Linked DNA regions of Homo sapiens. The protein of the gene in region 1 purifies or fractionates together with the protein of each later gene. This does not show direct contact. Each region holds a gene or a part of one and is shown in the gene's direction. Other genes may lie near its edges.

Region 1 (6,392 bases):
AATCTAAGCAAGCCAGTAGAGCAGTTATCTGGATTCACCTGCAAGGGCGAAGGGGATTAATACACTAGGCTGCCATCTCAGAATCCCACCTATGATGTGTGTGCCCATGAGGTCCATACACCCATGTTAGTGTGGTGACACATGGCTTTTATTCATAAAGCATCAGGCTGAGTGGCGCAGGGAAGCATGCTCTGCGGGCTGCTGCTAGGGCAGGGGTGACACTGAGGGGGCAGCACAGGGGGTCTGAGTTTAGATTGCCACTTGAACAATGACTGTCATTCATTATAACTTTTGCAAACCCACCAAAAGCTCCTGATGGCATGCATACCCATGCATCACACGTGCATACGTGCACACATGCCTTTTAAAGACCCCACATGGGTGATTGCAAGGGCTGTGTTTGACAGTTGTCATCTCTTAAAATGATGTAGGTTCCTGAAGTTCCTCATGCAGGACTGTCAGCCTGACAGCCTTAGCAAGTCAGTCCTCGTTCTCAAATGGGAAAATGACATGGGAGGGCCTTTTCCTCCCTTTTTGGTAGATCTGCCATTCATCAGCATCATTCTCTTCTCAGCCACTTGCTCATAAAGCCTTCCGGAGGCAATTACTCAGGTGTACATGACAGGCCTACATTCCTGTCAGGGGTGTGGGCTGGGTTAGAGAGGATGCGGGTGACACTCTGTTCCAGCAGGGACCATGCCTGCCCACCAGGAAGCACATGCCGTTCTCAGTAGAATTCTCTTTTCAGAGTTTAGGAAGCCACTAGCGCTATAATAACTGCTTGCTGTGGTTTGTGGTCAAGAGCAATCATAGCACTGATTTTATTTTTCTAATTTCATTCTGAAATCTAGACAGGAGGTGAGACTGCATCACGTTATGCTATAAAGATACTAGCTATCTGCACGAATAGTTATCATGAAGCTCGGGAAGAAGTAATAAGACTGGATAAAAGTAAGTGATGATTTCCTTAAGGGAGCCCTTGTCCCAGAGGTTCATCCACCCTTGAAGCTGCAAAGGGAACTGTGGTCGAGGAGGAACTTAGCAGCAATGCTGTTAACCTCTCCCAGACTTCAGCAATGTTTACAGAAGATGTTTCACATCCAGATCTGAAAGCATTTAATTAACCTTTTGGATGCACACAGGTAGAATGCCCAGGCTGGAGACCCAGCTGACAGATGGCTCAAAGATAACAGGGTCAAAGCTAGGAAACTCCCTCCTCTCACCAAGTTCAGTTCTCTGCCTTCACAGAAGGAGAGGGGGAAACACCGTCAACGTTTAGTGAACAAGGGAAATATCAGAGTCTGAGCCTAGGTTTAGTCCAGTAACTTAAACCGGCTGTAGTTATTCACAGCAGGCTTCCCAGGAGAGGCAGCCTGCTAATGTTCTTCTTACCAACTCCCTGGAATGCACAGAAGGTGAACTGAAGGAGGCTCCACCATGGAAGCGGCAAGCCTTTCTCCTGGATCCTGTTGCATACCCTGCAGGTGTAGGTTGCTGGCACATTGCCTCCACCTGGGGGCTGTCAGATAAGACCTCTCACCCTGGCGCAGTGAGAGGTTAAGAATAGGCTTTCAAGAAGACAGACCTGTCTGACACACAGCATTCATTCATCTAACAACTGTGTTGTGCTGGGCACTGTTCTAGGAAGCGGAGATACTTCAGAGGTTCAGCAAGGAGTTGAGGAGGTTCATATGCATTCAGTGAATGTTTGCTGATGAGTAAGTGAACAAGTTCTGCTGCAGAGTTACTGGGGAAGCTCGGTGTCCGCTGACATCTCCCTGCACCCCTCATGTCCTGTTGCCAGCCTCCTATTTTGGGATTAAAAGGAGCTGTTGCTTGTTCTCTTCTTTCCCTGCAGAGTTGAGCGTTATGATGAAGCTGCTCAGCTCGGAGGATGAGGTTCTGGTGGGCAACGCTGCCCTCTGCCTTGGTAACTGCATGGAGGTGCCCAACGTTGCGTCTTCCCTGCTAAAGACGGACCTTTTGCAGGTCTTGTTAAAGCTTGCAGGCAGTGACACACAGAAGACGGCCGTGCAGGTGAACGCAGGCATTGCTCTGGGGAAGCTGTGCACAGCTGAGCCCAGGTATGCTGTGGACACGGAGCCAGGCTGACCTATTGCAGAAAGAGCAGCTGAGCTGAGGTGCTGAGTTTTGGCTGGGACTGCATGCCACACAGAACAGTGTGGGAAGCCCTCATGCTTTCTGTGCAGACCTAGGTTAAGCCCAGTAGCTGCTTCTCTGAAGAAAGCCTTTCTAGAGGAAACTGGGGAGCTCTCGGTCTCCAACCAGAGAGGGAATCGGCTTGTCTGACAGGGACGTGCTGCTCCCACTTGCTGCCGTTGCCTTCTCTCCATTCCATTCTCCACTGTTTTGCATCCCTCTCCCTGTCTCTTTATCCTCCTTCTTCCCCTCCCTCCCACTCCACCTCCCCTTCTCTTCCCTCTTTTCTCTCTTCTCCACTTTTCCAGAAACAGACCCCCCACTTCATGTTCTTTGCCTCAGCCTAAACAAATGGAGGAACGGCCAGCAAGGGTCACATGTTCATGCAGGAGAAAACAGTGGAGAAGGAGAGACGCAGAACAGCATGCCGAGGTCCCCAGTGAGCGAGGGCAAGAGATGTGGGCTGTAACTGTGCCCATGGCTTCTCTGTTAGCTCAGACCTCCACTCTGCTCTGCTCCTCTTCTGATGTGCAGACGCATCTCATTGCACGTGCTTTTGGGAGGTGTCCACCTGTGGCTGAGCAAAGGAGCCCTGGCATAGAGCAAGGGTAACCCCGGGAGCTGAGTGAGAGAGGCTCCTTCCCTTACATCCACATGCCTTTAATTCCTCCTCTGTAGATTGAGGGGGTTGGCCTTGATAATATCTAAGGTCCTTTCAAGTTCTGTCTGGTTGTTCAAATGGAAGGAATAGTTAAAATCTTTCTTCTATAGAAAGAAAGCACATTAGCTAGGATGACTTCAAAGTGGCAACCTATGGGGGAGTTCTCGAGAGCAAGGTCCTGTCTGATCAGCCTGACACACCTGCCACCTGCAGCGAGTGTTTTCAGTGCTTTGTGGGCCTCCCTGAGGGTCTTACTTACCCCTGTGATCTTTAGGGTACCCCAATGCCACAGCCACTTCCTGTTTCCACCCAGAGTGATAGGACTGACGTTCTCAGCCAGCTTCCATCTGAGAGGGTGTTGGCTCTGGGCTCCAGAAGCCTGAACCGTGGCACTTATGCCCTGGGTTGTTTGTTTTGATTGTGACAGATTTGCTGCTCAACTGAGAAAGCTTCATGGCCTAGAAATTCTCAACTCTACGATGAAATACATCAGTGATTCTTGAGAGAGACAGGGTTTGTGTGCATTTGGGGAACACACAGATGCACACCGTGTGTTGTTCCTATGCTAATAAAGACCTTTGATGTATCCACTTCAGAATCAAGTACTCATTTTTAGAGTGTTTGCATTTCAGGTTTTCACGGGTAACAAGAGAGTGGGCATTAGGCTGGCTGCTGTGGTGGGCTCTGTGCACTGGCTTACTCGACTTCCATTGTACCCTCCTTTGAATGTTCTTTCCTGTTCTGTAGAAGCTAGAAACCATCTCACAAAAAGCCACATTGCCCAGACTCCCTTGTAGCAACGATTCTAGATGGGAACTAGTGGCCAATCTAATGCCACTTCCTACCCCTTTTGCTATTTTCTGCTGGCAATATGCTAGAAACATCAGATTTGTTGGTAGCAGCATTTCAGCTCCGTTTTTCCAGCTGTGGAGTGCTGAGAGAGAGTTGCATTGGCATCATTGGTGGCCTGCAGCTGACTCCTGGCCTGCAGCCACTGCATGTGCCGTTAAATTCAGTGGGGTGAGTGGTAGGTGGTGTCTCCCCTGTTAGGAGAACTCTGCGTGAATCATTCTGGGAATCATTCCTGGGGGTCCCTCTGGCACCCTCCTCCAGCCCATCTGGTGGTGCTATAGGCACCCTGTTCCATGGGTTAGATTGTTCTCTGCTAAAGGTGCCAAAGCACAGGCTTCTCTTTCTACAGTGAACCCTGACTGATGCAAATGTGTTGATTTCCCTAACCCACCTTGTACTCTCACCCCATCCCCAGAGGCAACGCTCCCTTCCAGTTGCCCCAGGGTCACTCTAAACCAGGGTCACCTGTGGACTGCAAGTCCCTAAGTGAGAAGTCCAATAAGTGGCATTATCTCTGGCTCCTTACAATCACAGAATCATTTTAGAGTAGGAGGCAGGGTCTTCATGGTACAGTGAATGTCAGGAGTCCCAGACCAAAGTTCCAAAGACTTTTGGTCGTACCCTGCTACCTGCCCTGCCAGCCATGTGACTTTGGGCAAGTTGCTTAACCTCTCTGAGCTTTGGCTACTGCTTCTGGAAACACTAATACCTGCCCAACCTACCTCCTCCATTGTTGTAAAGGTTAAATGAAGTTTTGGAGGTGAAGGCACTTTGGGAATTATAAAGTACTACGCAAATATAAGAGATTACCAGACTCTATCTTGAGATTGAGGGTGTCAACTATGACGTCATTTGGGTTAAGTTTGAAGGGTCTGGGAAAGGATGAAGCTCATGTCCTTTAAGGAATCAAGCTGGCCATTCTCTGAAGCATGTAGGAAAGGAAATCCTCCTCCTCCAGGGAGATGTTATTCAACACACCCAAAGAAAGTGTTCTTCACAGGTAAGGCAGCTGTTGGCTTAAATTAAGAACTTCGTTTCTGAAACGGAGATAAATAATTGGCATTTGGTGACGGGGGTGGGCGGTGGAAGAAAATCAATGGCCTGAGCCCCTCATTCAGATTGATGTACTGCGCATGGCTGGAGGGAGCTCACTGGGGCACTCTGTGGTGGCGCCCTGGGTGGCAAGCAAGTGACAGGCCACTAGCCAGGACCTGCCCATCAGTCCTATCATGCAAACAAACACCCTTCAAGAGGCTACTGAATTGCAAAGGGAGAACGGCTCGATGCTAATCAGAGCACAAAGAAGAAAATTAGAGGGTGCAAAAGTTGCTGTTTTCACAGAATTCCGTGGAGCTTTGAAAACGGAAAGGCTGTTTGTGTTCATAACCACCAGCCCTGTCTCCTTTGAAGTTCAGGCCCCGCCTTCCCCTGCTATGGCTGCCCTCCTTCTTGGCTCTTGAAAATGGCTATGATAGGTGTATTCTCTTCCCCAAAGAGTGGGGAATGTCAAATTACGTTATTATGTTTATTGTTCCAGAGTGCCTGCCGAGAGCAGTCATCTCCAATTTGGAAGAGAGTCTGCTGCACCTGAAGCTCTGTCTCCTCGCAGGTGGGAAGAGATGTTTCACATGCTAGTATTCTCCCTCTCCAGTGTGGATCCACCCCCGCCACCGCCCCAAACTTGTTACCCCTAACACATGCTACCATGCAGACCTTCCAGGCAGCATGGAAAATACCAGCGCCATCTTTCAGAAGGCCTCATCTCCACTTGCCAGGAGCCCCGACACCACCCTTGGAGACACGGCTTGTTCCAGGTAATCAGAGTCTTCTGGTTCAACAAGCAGAGGAGCTGGGATTTTCCATCCTAAAGAGGATGTGGCCGGGATGGAACTCCATCACCATCCTGAAGCCACAGCAGAGGTGGCAGGTAACAGACAGTCCAGAGCTGCTCACTGTCTTCATACATGACGTGAGGACGGTGGTTCCAGTGCGCCGCAAGGTGGGACTGAGGTTCAGAGTTGAGAGGAAACAATAGGAAGGGGCTGAGATGCTGCAACAGGTCACGGGCTGCTATTGTAAACACTTTTTTAAGGATAGGTTCAAATAAGAGCTTCTTGGCTTGGAGAACTGAGGGGAAGTATGACTAAGAAGTATTAGGTTGGTGCAAAACTAATTGCAGTTTTTGCCATTAAAAGTAATGACAAAAACTGCAATTTCTTTTGCACTAACCTAATATTCTGAGGACAAGAAGACATTTAATACCACATGACTTTTTTTAAGTAAGAGGTCTCATTTTCTAAATAACTTGAAAATAGAGGCTCTCCAAGGGTTCCGTTACAGGAGAGAATAATCAGAGGTGAAGAAAACCCATTTAGAGCTGACTCCCTTTCCCAGGGAATGAGCTTTTGGTCCTCATAGACTGGCATCCTGCAGACACGCAGAGAGAAAGAATAAAGCCTGCCTGTGCATTGTTTGTTTGTTTGTTTGTTTGTTTTGAAACAGAGCCTCACTTTATCGGCCAGGCTGGAGTGCAGTGGTGTGATCTCAGCTCACTGCAACCTCTGCCTCCCAGGTTCAAGTGATTCTCATGTCTCAGCTTCCCATAGCTGGGATTACAGGCATGCGTCCGTATCCCAAATTTTCATATTTTTATGAAATATGGTGTTTCACCATGTTGACCAGGCTGGTCTCGAACTCCTGACCTCAAGTGATCCACCTG
Region 2 (6,392 bases), on another chromosome or scaffold:
ATCCTCTAGCTAGACATAAAAGTTCTCCAAGTCCCCACTAGATTAGCTAGACACAGAGCACTGATTGGTGCATTTACAAACCTTGAGCTAGACATAGAGTGCTGACTGGTGCTTTTACAATCCTCTAGCTAGACATAAAAGTTCTCCAAATCCCCACCAGATTAGCTAGATACAGAGTGCTGATTGGTGCATCCACAAACCCCAAGCTAGACACAGAGTGCTGATTGGTGCATATACAATCCTCCGGCTAGACATAAAAGTTCTCTAAGTCCCCACCCGACTCAGGAGCCCAGCTGGCTTTGCCTAGTGGATCCCACGCCGGGGCTGTGGGTGGAGCTGCCCATCAGTCCAGCGCTGCGCGCCTGCACCCCTCAGCCCTTGGGCGGTCGATGGGACTGGGCGCTGTGGAGCAGGGGGCGGCGCCCATCAGGGAGGCTCGGGCAGCATGGGAACCCACCAGGGGCGGGGTGGGGGCCTTGGGCATGGCGGGCTGCAGGTCCCGAGCCCTGCCCTGCGGGGAGGTGGCTGAGGCCCGGCGAGAATTCGAGTGTGGCGCTGGTGGGCTGGCATTGCTGGGGGACCCGGGGCACCCTCCTCAGCAGCTGGCCCAGGTGCTAAGCCCCTCATTGCCCAGGGCTGGCGGCGCCGGCCAGCTGCTCCGAGTGTGGGGCCCATTGAGCCTGCGCCCACCCAGAACTCGCTCTGGCTTGTGAGCGCCACGCGCAGCCCCGGTTCCTGCCTGCGCCTCTCCCTCCACACCTTCCCACAAGCAGAAGGAGCCGGCTCCAGCCTTGGCCAGCCCAGAGAGGGGCTCCCACAGTGCAGCTGTGGGCTGAAGGGCTCCTCAAGCGTGGCGAGAGTGGGTGCCAAGGCCAAGGAGGTGCTGAGAGCGAGCAAGGGTTGCCCGCACGCTCTCACCTCTCACCCAGCCTATAAGAGTACTTCTGCTTTCAAAAAAGACATGTCTGTGGCATGAAAACATGCCACACATACACAAAAAGTGCCCTCCTGAACTAGAGGGCAGATCCTCACACTGACTTAACATGCTGGCATTTAAGAATATCAAGAACTGAATAAAGAAAATGATCTGCCCAACTGCGGGTAGTTCATCTGTCTGAGTCAGAGGTTCTTATGCCTTCCTGGGGAGGAAGTTATGATGCCGCGAAGAAATTGGCACTGCTGAGTTCTACATGCAGTTGCTACAGGGAGGAGTCTTCATTTAGCTTTAAGCGAAATACAGCTTAAAAATATCTTACCTGTATTCTGTACATCAACTTGTGATGGATTGAGGCCAGTTCTGGTTCTTGGAATGATATTTTTCTCTTTGTTAGAGCCATTTTGTTCTAATAGCTGTGATGATCCAATCAAGAAAGATGAAATGGAAGACAGTGAGATGTCAAGGATTGAATAGGACGTAGAACCAGAAGATAGAGGTTGAAGGTACCGCTTTGCCCCTGACCAGGGGTAAATTCTTCAATAACTGACTCTGTCCGGATAAGGAGGATAATAATGCTCTACCAGCTTCAGTTACCGTGTTAGGGGATCAATAATATATGCTATGTAGATTAAGCCATAGAAAAGTTAAAGCTTGAAACATTTGTTGGGCAGCTGAACCATGAAGTGAATGAAATTAATTCGCCTTCAAGTGGAAACATGAGATCCACAAGCCAGCTTTTACTTCACACTTCCACCTTGGAGTCTTGAATACCTCTCTGTCTTCCTTGCTTGCCATCTGTTCTCTTACTTTTGATGCTGTTATTGTCCAAGATGTTCTCTCTTAGAATAGCTGGTAATGATAGCACAATGCATAGATGGGCTCAGTCCACAGAAGCTACGTGAATTCTCCCAGTAACAGATGAGGAAATTGAGGCTCAGAGATGTTCAGTAGCTTGCCTAAGGTTGCATAAGCTAGTGAGTGGCAGAGCCCAGATTCAAACCAGATACACTTCAAAAGCAAGCGCTCTCAGCTACTGTGCCGGATATACCATTCATTCAGAATAGCGTGGGCTAAGCCCACTCTGTGTTGTGAGACAGAGAACATTCAGACTAAGACATGCATGACCTGTCCTGTGGGAGCCACTCTTCACCAGAGGCACTTCTGCACACACCCGCGTCTCATGCATTTTCCCTGGTCAAATTCAACCATTTGTTCTCCTTAGTGTCTTTGTTGCTGAGCTCATGTAAAAAAACACTGGAGTCTCCAGATTAGTTCTATGTGGGTTCATGCTTCCCAGATGCCATCGGACTGTGTGTTCTCCTCTTGTCCTTGGTCAGTTCCCTCTCCCATCCCTCACAGGGACTGGTCTTGACACTCTCTGGGTTTTACTGAATGTTACATGTTTATGTTGAAGAGATTGCTGATGTTAGACGTTAGGATTTATTTGGCAGTGCAAGAGTTTGTGTTTCTCTTTCTTTGAGGATCTCTATATTGTTATTAATGGTGGTGTTGAGGAAACCACGGAGCTCCTGAAGCAGCGATTTGACCACATTTTCTATACGGGAAACACTGCGGTTGGCAAAATTGTCATGGAAGCTGCTGCCAAGCATCTGACCCCTGTGACTCTTGAACTGGGAGGGAAAAGTCCATGTTATATTGATAAAGATTGTGACCTGGACATTGTTTGCAGGTGAGTCTGGCTCTCTGATTTTCTGAGGTTTTCCCAGCACAATGGAGACTTTTCCTGACAATGTTACTCTTTGTACTTGAACCCCATACCTTATGGCTCCAAGATACATTATTAAGCTTTGGTGGTTGATGTCCTCAAGAGTAACAGGAGTCTTTCACTGTCTCTTGGCGCCACTGTCAAAAATGGTGAGCTGTAAGTCCTGACATCATGTGGTTGTCCTTAGGAATTTTAAAAAAGTTATATCTGTTCTCAAGATTACAGCTAGATCTAGCAAGAAATTTTAACGTTCTTCTGGCCAGTGATCTGTGAAGTACATAATCCAAAGTATTGTGTGTGCCTAATAAAATCTTTAAATGCCCATTTGAGAGGGTATTATGCTGATATCTTAACTGAGATCCTTTGTGGGCAAAACAAGTGTTCCTCATTTTTTAACTGTGAATAACATCTTGCATCTGAAAATTAGAAAATAAGAGGTTTCAGGTTCTCTCTGCTAAATCCGGTTTAGCTACTAAGAAGTGCCAAATCATAGAACTGACTCTGTGCTCTGGGTGGTGTGGCTTTCTCTGCCCTTCAGAGATTCCAGGTCAGGGTTCCAGGTTGGCTTCCTAAGTAGAAATCCATTTGTCAAAACCAGACACCCTCAGTTAGTGAATGTTTAGGGCATGGGTTTCTGCCCATGCATAGGAAAGGTCTTCCCAAGTGGGGCAGGGCTCCACAAAGAGGAGGATGGCCTTGGAGGCTGGCTGACATCCTGCTTTATACCTGAACATCTTGCAGGCAGAGCCAAAAGCCACAACCAGGAGAGTCTGTACCGAACTCTGGTCATCCAGGACTTTCCTTTGGCTGGACTGGAAGAGGGGAAAGGACATTGGGAGGCTGTTTCTCCTCTTTTCCTGCAGCAGGCAATGGCTTCACTGTTTACCAAGTACTGTTTGCCGTGAGCTGGCCTGAGAACTTCCCTGCTATGTAAAATATTCCACCTCATTTGGAAAATACTTTCTAAGTTCCAAACAACTGATTTAGAAATGAGTTTTTAACTTTTTTATAAAAATTGCCAGATAAATATATGAATCTATTTTAGTTGCAAGACATTCAAACAACACAATGTAACAAATGAATATTTGACTGAATTACTGAATTATATAGCTGTTCTGGATGTTTTCCCCTCAGACGCATAACCTGGGGAAAATACATGAATTGTGGCCAAACCTGCATTGCACCCGACTATATTCTCTGTGAAGCATCCCTCCAAAATCAAATTGTATGGAAGATTAAGGAAACAGTGAAGGTTTGTATTAAAAACATCTGATTCCACTGATTTTAATAAGATAAGGAGTCAAATTAACTATTCGCAGGCAGCATCCCCATTTGTTTCTCCCTTCAGGAAAATTTCAAAATCATATGTGACTCAGTGAACTTATTGACTAATATGAAAATGCTATGTGTACCATAGAATATATGCTGGGAGCAAGGTTGCATTGGTGTTAAATCTACTTAAACTGTCTAGTTGATTTGTTGATGATTAGTTGTGGCATATACTTTTTTTAAAAAAGTTAAATAATCGTGTGTCCGTGGTTTTGAGGGAATGTTGCCAACCCTTTAGGTATAATCAGAGAGACTCTTTGGCATATTGGCCATTGCTGCTGAAGGTTATCAGTTTTTGTGTATGTAGAGGGCCTAGGGTGGCCAGTAGTTTGGAGGAGTGACTTAATTAAATAACTACTTACAGTATACCCTTTATATAATTAACAATCTTTCAGCGTGTTTAAAGTAAATATTTGCAGTGAGGGAACCAAGGAAGACTGCATGTAGAGTCCTAAGCCAAGACTTGAAGAAATATAGGATTTAAGTTGGTAGAAAGGAATGGGGGCTGGGCACGGTGGCTTATGCCTGTAATCCCAGCACTTTGGGGGGCCTAGGGGGGCAGATCACTTGAGGTCAGAAGTTCAAGACCAGCCTGGCCAATATGGTGAAACCCTGTCTCTACTAAAAATACAAAAAAATCAGCCGGGGATGGTGGTGCATGTCTGTAATTCCAGCTACTCAGGAGGCTAAGGCACGAGATTTGCTTGAACCCTGGCAAGAATCGCTTGAACCCGGGAGGCAAAGGTTGCAGTGAGCCAAGATCACGCCACTGCACTCCAGCCTGGGCGACAGAGCAAGACTCTGTCTTTAAAAAAAAAAAAAAAAAGAAGAATGGGATGACCAAATGACCAGTGTGACTGAGTTCAGCAGTGGGTGAGGATCATTAACCCCTCAGATGAAAGAAATTATTGGAGCAGTCACTGTTTACTCGACAGATGTTAATTGAGCACTAAAAGGAAGGATCAAAAACACCAAAGAGTAATGCATGTGATCTGAAAATGAAAATTGTTGGCCAGACATGGTGGCTCACGCCTGTAATCCCAGCACTTTGGGAGGCCAAGACAGGTTGATCACTTGAGGTGAGGAGTTAGAGACCAGTTTGGCCAACATGGCAAAACCCATCTCTACTAAAATTACAAAAATTAGCCGGGCATGGTGGCACGCACCTATAATTCTAGCTACTTGGGAGGCTGAGGCACAAGAATTGCTTGAACCCGGGAGGTGGAGCTTGCAGTGAGCCAAGATCATGCTACTGCACTCCAGCCTGGGTAACGGAATGAGATTTTATCTCAAAAGAAAAAAAGATATGAAAATTGTCGCCGTTGTGGTGGTTCACTCCTGTAATCCGAGCACTTTGGGAGGCTAAGGTGGGAAGATCGCTTGAGCCCAGGAGTTCAAAACCAGCCTGGTCAACATAATGAGACCCTGTGTCTACAAAAGAAAAAAAGGTTAGCTGGGTATGGTGGCACATGCCTGTAGTCCCAGCTACTCAGGAGGCTGAAGCCAGAAGGATCACTTGAGCCCAGGAGTTCAAGGCTGCAATGAGCCATTATTGCATCACTGTGCTCCAGCCTGAGTGACAGCATAAGACTCTGTCTCAAAAAAACAAAAAAAGAGAAAATTGGCTGGGCACAGTGGCTCACTCCTGTAATCCCAGCACTTTGGAAGGCCAAGGCAGACAGATCACTTGAGGCCAGGAATTCAAGACCAGCTGGGCAACGTAGCAAAATCTTGTCGCTACAAGAAATACAAAAATTCAGGTGTACCGGCGTGTACGTGTGGTCCCAGCTACTTGGCAGGCTGAGGTAGGAGGATCGCTTGATCCTCCTGGGAGGCGGAGGCTGCAGTGAGCCAAGAATGTGCCACTGGACTCCAGCCTGGGTGACAGAGTGAGACCCTGTCTCAAAAAAAAAAAAAAAAGAGAAAATTATGTACCAGGAAGTTCAGGACAATAGTTCACTATGTGTTCCAGGCAGAGTAACTTGGGGGATGAGGTGCTAGGGTCTTGACATGGAAATTGGACTATCATTTTTAGTCATAGGACTAAAAATGGATCCAGATGAGCACATGAAGGGAGAGTTGCCCAGATTCAGGGTATGTGGGAAGAGAGAGTGGTTAAAGATACTTGTGAGATTGAAAATATTTGGGAATTGGAGAATGCTTAGTTGAGTGTGGTGATGAATTCAATTTCAAAGGAATAAGGGCCTCTGCCTCCCTTTGAGGCATTTATACTCTTAACACAGTGGTTCTCAAGCTACATGTTACCCTAGTGAGCCATTTAAAAACAAGTTTGCAAGCCTTACCCTCCAAAGATTCAGCTCGTCTGAGGCCTCCAGGTGATTCTATGATGCATTCAGCATTGAAAACTACTGTTGGTGACTCTCGAGTCAGAGCCCAGGC
Region 3 (6,350 bases), on another chromosome or scaffold:
CCTTATTTGTTTAAATGACAGAAGAATTCCAGTTCTGCCTTCTGCCACATGGGGAGAAAGATGGTAGCTATCATTGGCTGAGCACTTCCGAGGTCCTTTACTAGATTTCTTAGTTTCATCTTCACAACACCACTATAAAGGGATGGGACCAGATGATTTCTAAGATGCTTTTCCGCTTTGCTTCTAATAAACAAAACAAACCCAAGTTTGTCTATCCAAAAGAGTAGGTGTGTCTAAAAGGAGCATGAACATTTGAACATTTAAGGAAACCAGATAGTCTCACTGGGTAAGGTAAATTCAAATTTTAAGAAGTTTATAAAATGGTAAAAAAAAAAAAATGATGGTTTTGGTTTCCCATCAGACATTTGTGTTCTACATAATGAGTTTCTCTCAGGTGGATTCATTAAGTGAGCATCTTGATCTCCTAGCCCAAGCTTAGGTGTTGAATCCTGTCAGCTCCAGCTGCCTCCTCCTCTGTAAGATAGGCATACTAATCCCTGCCCTGATGACATCACAGAGCTGCTCTGAGGGCCAAATGCGCAGCTGTGAGCAAACTAAAGTGCCCCACTGAGTTGAGAAACCTTGGCCACAGGGACCTGTTCCTGGTGGGGGGAAGATGCTGCTTCTTTATCAAAGGTAATGTGTTTAGAAGAAGCTTTCAGGTAGCTTATCCTAGTCCTGGACTCTCTCCAGTTCTCACTTCTGTTATTTTTCTGTCTAGATTTACTTTTCTCAAGGTGGACAAGCTGTAGCCATCGGGCAATTTAAAGATCGAATTACAGGGTCCAACGATCCAGGTAATGCATCTATCACTATCTCGCATATGCAGCCAGCAGACAGTGGAATTTACATCTGCGATGTTAACAACCCCCCAGACTTTCTCGGCCAAAACCAAGGCATCCTCAACGTCAGTGTGTTAGGTATGAGCACTTTTTTCTGCTTTTTCTTTTCTTGGAAAAAGTTAGGACACTGAATGAGCCAGGACAGTGAGTTATGATGCCAATTAAGTCTCTGTAGGTAAATATACTCCCTAATATTTTCATTATCAGGGAAATAGAGACAAGCCACCAGCCCAACCAAAACAGTAACACTGAGAAATCACTCATAAAACATGCAGAACAATTGTGCAAACGGGCTGCCAAAATGACAGCAGTAGATGACCCAACCTCCAGTGATCCCTATCTCTGAGGGATGGAATGAGAACAGATGAGACAATCCACTGTCCCACAAAATGATCACTAGCAACTCTTTTAGAGGAAACCTCCATTTACAGCCAGATCTACCTGGGGGAGACTACTGTCAACTTATTATTCCTTTTAAGCTCGACACAATTCCCACCATTAAATTATTCTTTTAAATAAAGACAGGAGAGTCCCTTTTTTAAAATGCTAATGTTATTTGGAAAAAGGACTGAAATTAATCTAGTGTTGAGAATCAACATATTTACATACAAATATTCATTATATGATATTGGGCAAGCCGTATCTGCTCTTAAAATGAATTTGGAATCTCATTTGTTCAGTATTTATTGAGTTACAGTGATGGAGGTGTTGTTTTTGCCCTTGGGAAGCTCCCAATTTTGGCCATTTCTAGAAGTCCTTACAATCTCTGTCTGAGAGGACAATGTGGGCTAAACTTCCATCTGCAGGCTGGTATTGGGAAGTATCGAAGCAAGGGATGAAAGGGCTGCCAATCCTCAACTCTTACAGACAGACCAGTTGAGATGAGCATTTTCCCACTTCTAGGTAGCCCCAAATGAAGCTGATCTAGTCATTGCTGCTCTCAAGCTGTGTGCACACATCACAAGAAAGGAGGAACTACATCAAATCAGTGACTTAATAGTTGAGTAGCTTGGAAAAGCAGCAATTGGTAACAAGGTGCATACCCAAGAGAACTGTTTACAGTTGTCCTGGCTTGCCACTCAGGTAATGCCACAAAGGAACCAGCTGACATTTACTGTGAGGTTTGCCACTGCATCTACCCACCTGGGAAAGAGGGAAAGGTACCTAAGAGCTATTTTTTAAGAGTGGGTTAGCTTAATCAATCATATTTTTATCTTACTGAGTTCTGTGCCAGGAATTGGGGTACAGGAACAGACAAGAGAAGTATTACTCAAGCAAATTCCTGGGAGAGTTTCTGTTTCAGTTTGGAAGACTAGTGTATTAGTCTATTCTTGCATTGCTGTAAAGAAATACCTGAGACTGGGTAATTTATAAGTAAAAGAGGTTTAATTGTCTCACGGTTCTGCAGGCTGTACAGGAAGCATAGCAGCTTCTTGGGAAGCCTCAGGAAACTACAATCATGGCAGAAAGCAAAGGGGAGGCAAGATGTCTCACATGGCTGGAACAGGAGGAAGGGGAGGGGAAGATGCCACACACTTTTAAACAACCAGGTCTTATGAGCACTCATTCACTATCACAAGATCAGCACCGAGGGGGAAATCCGCCCCCATGATCCAGTCACCTCTCACCAGGCCCTATCGCCAAAATTAGTGATTACAATTTGACATGAGGTTTGGGTGGGGACACAGATCCAAACCATATCAACTAGTTAGTTATATACATGGGAACTAAGTGATGTGCTATAAATGCCAAAGCATCAAACTGGCACTCAGAAGACCTGAGTTTTAGATCTTACTCTGTACTCAGTGACCTTATACAAGTCAGTCCACCTTTCTCTGACCATTGTGAGATGGGGTTATAATTTCTGCCCTGTCTTCTTTACAGGTTTGTTATGAACAGTTTTGTTATTTTACCTATAAAATGAAATACTGGAGATCAAAGGGGTTTTTAAATGTTCAAAAACTGGAGGGATTAGCTAATGATTTTCTGTTGCTTCCTGGTTCTGGGATGTTCTGACCAGAAACAATCTAAAGAAGCCAAGTCTCTTCATCTCAGAGCTTGGAAATAGCCCTGAGATAAAGTTAGACAAGAAGGTTAATATTCTTAAATTTAAAGCTCAGAGGATCCCAAATCAATTTCCATAAGAAGTTGAGGGTCACTTCATCTCAGAGGTGTTTTTTCCCATGAGTCTTTGTGTCAGATAGCTCTGTGTCATGACTTTTCCTTAAGCAGCCAGGATCCAGACAAGGTAAGAGGCAGAAGGGTCTGTGGATTTCCTTGTTTGTTTAGGAACTCTAAAAAATATTGTTTTTGTTAATTGGGCAAAGAACAAAGGCCTCCTCCAAATGTAGGCTTTTTGGAAAATTTGAGACTGCTAATTTTCTCTAAAAATTGCAGCGACTATTTGCAATTCTCAAATCTCATTGTATATGAGTGACAATTTTGCTTGCCCTGACTGAAAGGTGAGGCAAGATGGGGACAGGTGGGTAAGAGAGACAGGTTAATTGTGGGGAGAGGTGTTGATATTTCCTTAAAGATGACTCTCATAGCAATGTATCTTTCAGATGTTTTGTTACCCAGCAGTGAGCATCAATCCCATGCATTTACTCGTTCATGCATGAATTCATTTAACAAACCCTGAGCACACGTGCCAGTTACTGTGCTAAGCAATGGACATGGGGAAATGTAAAAGATAGGGTCTTAGCCCTCTAAAATTCAGTCTAGTGAAGGAGACAGACGCGTAACATAAAAGCTTTCAGTGGAGGTATGAGAGGAGAGCTATGAGGGCACAGGGGAAAGGGCAAAAAGCTGTATCAGGAATTGGAGAAGGCTTATTGAGGAAAGTGACTTTTGTGCTGAATGTTGAAGGATGTGCAAGAGTGTGTGATGAAGAAGAGGGGCTGAGATGGCAAGGCACAGTTTAGGTGAAGGAAACAGCAATGGGCAAAGAACCAGGTGGTTTGGATGGCCATTCATTTGAGAGCTTTCCATTAGGTATGACAACCTTGGAAAATTAATCTCTGAAAAATACCCAGATCAAGTTTGAATAATTATTTTGTGTGCATTTGGAATGAGCATCATCTACCTTCCGCAATTTGGCACATAAAAAGAAAATGATTGATTTAGGGAAGGTTTAAGAACCTACTGAAGCACTTTGTTTTTTCTTTTTTCTTTTTTTTTCTGAGCTGAGCCTTTTCCTCCCACCCCAATTCTGTTGAAAGCAATAAAGCTAAATGGTAGATCAATGGCTTTGCCAGTAAAATACCCAAGTTCCACTGGGGACTTTAACTGGATGAAATTTCAGTTCAATCCTGGGTCAGTAGTTTTAGAAAATATATAGGTTTGGGACTTGGTTCAAAGTGATTCACTAAATGTTTTGTTAATAAAAAATAAAAGGAGAAAAATATTCTAAGCAAAAAAAATGCCTATCTGGGTTTGATTCTGGGCTCAAGAAATGAGTGCAAGTCATTCCAGGTTTTTGCCATAATTTAGTTCAAGTCCTGGTGTCCAACTTTGTGATGAAACACCCCCATTTAATTTTCTGTTCAAATTGTTCTATTCTGCTGTAAAGGCTATACAATAGCCATCTTTTTAAAAAGGCAGTATCTAAATCTAGTGATAGCTGCAATGGACTTCTGGTTAAATAGCTTAGTTTAGGATAGGCACATCCAACAAGTTGTTCCTACCTGAGAAAATCTTTGATAAGAAAGAATAAAGAACTAAGTAGAAGGATATTCCTTTCAATTAAAAAGACACATGCTTAAAAGATAGGGCTAGTAAACTGTTTAAGAATTATAGCTATATGCATCTGTCTTCTCGCACCTGTGTACAGATAGTGAGAGTCTGGGAAGGCTGAACTGAGCGGAAGTCAATGGGAGAGTAACTTTAGTAGCAGGAATTAGTGCTGCTGTGGCCAACAGAAATTCCAGGTTCTAGGCCCTATATTTATTATTGTATTTAATACTTGGATCAGCCAGAGGTTAGATAATCTCTTAGTCACGTTTTACAGATGAGTCAGCTGAGGTTTGGCTAAGTTAGGTAACTTGCCTATACAGATCCAGGGTAGAGTTACAAAGCCCGTATTCTGTGTGGATCCAGAGCTGTGCCCTTAACCACTGCGTCTCAGGTAAGAGCTGTAGGACTGAGTAATATGACACATTTCATGTCTAACTCACCTAAATTAGAGAACCTAAGCTTTAAAGGGTTCTAGAGCAAAATGAAGATAAGCAAGGTGAGTTGGAAAGTATAGAAATTTACATCATTGTCTGTATATAAGATAGATATATAAGGTGTATAAGATAGATGTATAGATATAAAATAAATATCTAAGATAAGAGATATAAGATAGATATGTAGATATGATAGATATATAAATGTATAAGATATGTAAGATAGAATAAACCGTGCAAGTAAGTAAGATGAATGAGGAGATTCAGATTCCCAGCTTCCCACAGGACTTCTCCCCTGACATGTTTTCATAAGCAGCTAAAACTCTATGTCCCGGACTGACCTCATTAGTACCCCTTCCTCCTTGTCACCCCTTCACCTAAAACCTGTTCTTCCTGCTGTGGTCTTGGAGGCCTCTTCCCCTCTCTAAAGTCATCTCTCATCCCTCTCCCACCCCACTTTAGAACTGTGTGAAAGTTACTTTTGAATTCCTGGTGCCTAGTCCCATGCCAGGCCCACAGAAGGCATGGGTGCTTGCTGAGTGAAGGATGAATAAATATTTCAGTGCTGAGTAGCGTGCACCCCCCAAATGGACTTCCCCTACTGATGATGCACACAGGCAAATTTAAACCTTTCAACTATTTGTGTCACCCACAGATGAACAAATGCAAAAAAAAAAAAAAAAAAGAAAATAATCATGAGAGAAAAGAGAAATACAGCATTAAATATTTTAAAAAGAATAATAGGTTATCTCAGAGTATTTAAGGATTCTATTTTCCTTTAAAACTGTGCTTTTAAAGCATAAACTATATTCCTGGTCATTTAGTATTTGCTTATATTTGGCTGTTTTAATAAAGGCATATTTTAAGACACAATGCGGAAATTCATGGTTATAAATCTGAGGAGGAGGCAGACAGAGGAGTCACTATTTGAATCTTAATGGCCTCTTGACTAGAAGGGCCCTGCACCTGAAGTGCTCTACTCCCACCTGGTGGTGCAAGCAGAAAACTGCCAACATACATTTTAATAATTTTTTTTGTGTGTGTGGAGACCCAGTCTCACTTTGTTGCTCAGGATGGAGTGCAGTGGCGTGATCTTGGCTTACTGCAACCTCTGCCTCCCAGGTTCAAGTGATTCTACTGCCTCACCCTCCCAAGTAGCTGGGATTACAGGCGCCCACCACCACGCCCAGCTAATTTTTGTATTTTTAGTAGAGATGGTGTTTCATCACATTGGCCAGGCTGGTCTCGAACTCCTGACCTCAGGTGATCCACCTACCTCGGCCTTCCAAATTGCTGGGATTACAGGCATGAGCCACTGCGCCTGGCCAAGAATTTTTTT
Region 4 (3,500 bases), on another chromosome or scaffold:
GGTTCAAGCGATTCTCCTGCCTCAGCCTCACAAGTAGCTGGGATTACAGGCGTCCGCCACCACGCCCGGCTAATTTTTGTATTTTTAGTAGAGACGGGGTTTCACCATGTTGCCCAGGCTGGTCTTGAACTCCTGACTTCAGGAATCCACCTGCCTCGGCCTCCCAAAGTGCTGGGATTATAGGCATGAGCCACCGCGCCTGGCCTAGTTTCAACTAGTTCAGTTTGATTTTATTCTTGCTACACTGGATTTGGCTTCATGCTTCAAGACTTATACAAGCTGTAGATTTCCTAAAAGTCTTAAGAAAGAGTAAATTATTAAAACAACCCAATTCATAATTGGAGCTATATATTACATTAGCAAAGGTTTTTTGATAGCTTTTGCAATAGACTTTACTGGCACTAAGTTGTTTTCCCTTTGGGATTTATAGAAGACCCTTGAGTATTCTCAGATGTGTTTGACACATAGAAAGGGGTAGAATAACTAGGGGTTGTTTTAGAAGACTGTATCCTGCTATTTGATTTTTTTTTTTAAAGACCCAGAAATTTAGAAATATTTTTTTCTTCTTCAGATAAAATACTCATTTATTTTTTTGAAGCCTCCCTAATACGTTTACATGTAGGAACCTAAGCTATGTATTTATACTTTAACTTTGCTTTATTTTCAGGTGTTCTGTTCCAGTAGAGCCAGGAGATATCATTCATTTGGAGGGAGACTGCACATCTGACACTTGGATAATAGATAAAGATTTTGGATATTTGATTCTGTATCCAGACATGCTGATTTCTGGCACCAGCATAGCCAGTAGTATTCGATGTATGAGAAGAGCTGTCCTGAGTGAAACTTTTAGGGTAAATAATAGTAACAGTTAATGTTTCTGCAGGGTCTGAGAGTTTTACAGAGCACTTTTACATTTATTATTTCACTTAATCCTCCCAGCAACCCTATAAAATAAATGGTATTAATTAGCTGCATTTTATAGATGAGGAAAATGGGCTCAGAGAGGTGAAGTGACTTGCCCCATAGCCACATAACTATGAGGTGGCAGTGCTAGGACTAAAGGCCAGGTGCCTGAGTCCTTCGAATCTTGTTCAGGGCTTAATAAAATAACTAATTATAATAAGAAAATTAATTTAAATGATAAACTTTTAAATTTAAACACACCTAGACATTTCCAAAGTTGGCTTCATGTGATTCCCACTAAACTAAAAATAAATGTGCAAACTGCTTTTAAAAAATGTATTTTGCTAGAAAAATTAGCCAGGTGTGGTGGCGTGCACCTGTAGTCCCAGCTACTCAGGAGGCTGAGGCAGGAGAATCGTTTAAACCCGGGAGATGGAGGTTGCAGTGAGCCGAGATCATGCTACTGCAGTCTAGCCTGGGCGGCAGAGCAAGACTCTGTGTCAAAACAAACAAACAAAAATGTATTTTGGACTATTTCAAACATACAAAGAGATGATTGTAATAAACTCCCATGTACTCAACACCCAGCTTTTTATTTATTTTTCTTGAAACATGCAGTTTTATTTTAAAATAAAAAGTCTCAAAAAAAAAACGTATTTTGGGGCTGGGCGCAGTGGCTTACGCCTGTAATCCCAGCACTTTGAGAGGCCGAGGTGAGCAGTTCATGAAGTCAGGAGTTCAAGACCAGCCTGACCAACATGATGAAAACCAGTCTCTACTAAATACACAAAAATTAGCCGGGCGTTGTGGTGCGCGCCTGTAATCCTAGCTACTCGAGAGGCTGAGGCAGAATTGCTTGAACCCTGGAGGCGGAGGTTGCAGTGAGCTGAGATCCCACCACTGCACTTCACGGTGGGAGATAGAGGGAGACTCCGTCTCAAAACAAACAAAAATGTATTTTGGGCTATTTCAAACATACAAAGAGATGATCGTACCCAACACCCAGCTTTTTATATATTTTTCTTGAAACGTACTTTTATTTTATTTTGAGTCTCACTGTGTCACCCAGGCTGGAGTGCAGTGTGTCACTGAAGCCTTGACCTCCCAGGCCACCTCAGCCTCCCTAGTAGCTGGGACTATAGGCATGAGCTACTGTGCTTGGCCTGAATATTAAGTTTTAAAAAACTTTTTGGACCGGGCGCAGTGGCTCACGCCTGTAATCCCAGCACTTTGGGAGGCCAAGGCTGGCGGATCACGAGGTCAGGAGATCAAGACCATCCTGGCTGACATGGTCAAACCCCATCTCTATTAAAAATACAAAAAAATTAGCCGGGTGTGGTGGCGGGCGCCTGTAGTCCCAGCTACTCGGGAGGCTGAGGCAGGAGAATGGCGTGAACCTGGGAGGCGGAGCTTGCAGTGAGCAAAAGTCGCGCGGCTGCACTCCAGCCTGGGTGACAGAGCGAAACTCTGTCTCAAAAAAAAAAAAAAAAGGTCTAGGCTAATACAAGAGTTAATCAAGAAATGTAGTGTTTCTTTTTGAGTGGAGAAAAATTCCTTGCCAAAAATCTCTGCTGTAGGTTAAAAAAATTTTTTTTCTTCCCAAACATTACTGCTAAGTAGGTTTACATTTTATGTTTGAATGGTATCTTTTACTTACATGAGTTTATCAGCTATGCCTTTATTGACTTTTCTATTGGGTGGATTATCAAGTGAAATAAGAGAACAATACTTTAAATATTAATTATTTGAGAATATTTTGAATTTTAAAATATTGGTTATTTTAATTTTTTTCAAAATGGAGAACATTGATTTTAAAAGTAATTCATATCAGCCTGGCCAACATGGTGAAACCCTGCCTCTACTAAAAATACAAAAAATAAAAGTTAGCCGGGCATGATAGCACACACCTGTAATTCCAGCTACTTGGGAGGTTGAGGCATGAGAATCATTTGAACCTGGGAGATGAAGGTTGCAGTGAGCTGAGATTGTGCCACTGTGCTCCAGCCTGGGTGACAGAGCAAGACTCTGTCTCAAAAAAGAAAAAAAAAAGGATAACTCATACAGTAATTCAGACAATTCTGGATAGAAGAAAGTGAAAGTCACTTATAATTCCACGCACCAGAAAAAAATTTTTTTAATATTTTGGCATTTGTCTTACCAGTGCATTTTGGCTATGGTGGTTTAATAGATTAGGTAATAAATATACAATTGTGTCTGTTAATATGTTGTGAAATAAACTGTGTGATTTGCTTTTGTAGAGCTCTGATCCAGCCACACGCCAAATGCTAATTGGTACGGTTCTCCATGAGGTGTTTCAAAAAGCCATAAATAATAGCTTTGCCCCAGAAAAGCTACAAGAACTTGCTTTTCAAACAATTCAAGAAATAAGACATTTGAAGGAAATGTAAGTAGTTATAAGAAGAACTGCAGGTATAATTTTATTATATAACTTCTGTCCTAGAAACTATAAAGTATTTGTGTAGACTATCCAATATAAATTAGTGTAATCTAAAATGCAGATTTCATAGTTCTAGTACATTGTTGGAACTCTGTGAAGAGTTTCTGAAATTGCTCAACAGGAACTTTTTGGGTAAAAA

Evidence for each region.
Region 2: the proteins of TTC12 (region 1) and ALDH3A2 purify together in Homo sapiens (affinity purification with mass spectrometry; one large-scale study listed by BioGRID and IntAct). This does not show direct contact.
Region 3: the proteins of TTC12 (region 1) and VSIG1 purify together in Homo sapiens (co-immunoprecipitation; one large-scale study listed by IntAct). This does not show direct contact.
Region 4: the proteins of TTC12 (region 1) and DNA2 purify together in Homo sapiens (affinity purification with mass spectrometry; one large-scale study listed by BioGRID and IntAct). This does not show direct contact.

The regions. Positions count from the first base shown.
Region 1 is NC_000011.10:113,362,977-113,369,368, forward strand, and holds the end of TTC12 (tetratricopeptide repeat protein 12), read left to right. Parts: intron 1-851; coding exon 852-951; intron 952-1,858; coding exon 1,859-2,084; intron 2,085-3,248; coding exon 3,249-3,324; 3' UTR 3,325-3,411; downstream 3,412-6,392. UniProt on the Homo sapiens protein: Cytoplasmic protein that plays a role in the proper assembly of dynein arm complexes in motile cilia in both respiratory cells and sperm flagella.
Region 2 is NC_000017.11:19,653,948-19,660,339, forward strand, and holds part of ALDH3A2 (aldehyde dehydrogenase family 3 member A2), read left to right. Parts: intron 1-1,331; exon of another isoform or gene 1,332-1,440; intron 1,441-2,418; coding exon 2,419-2,627; intron 2,628-3,797; coding exon 3,798-3,915; intron 3,916-6,392.
Region 3 is NC_000023.11:108,066,215-108,072,564, forward strand, and holds part of VSIG1 (V-set and immunoglobulin domain-containing protein 1 isoform 2 precursor), read left to right. Parts: intron 1-721; coding exon 722-920; intron 921-6,350.
Region 4 is NC_000010.11:68,465,474-68,468,973, reverse strand, and holds part of DNA2 (DNA replication ATP-dependent helicase/nuclease DNA2), read left to right. Parts: intron 1-667; coding exon 668-851; intron 852-3,161; coding exon 3,162-3,307; intron 3,308-3,500. UniProt on the Homo sapiens protein: Key enzyme involved in DNA replication and DNA repair in nucleus and mitochondrion.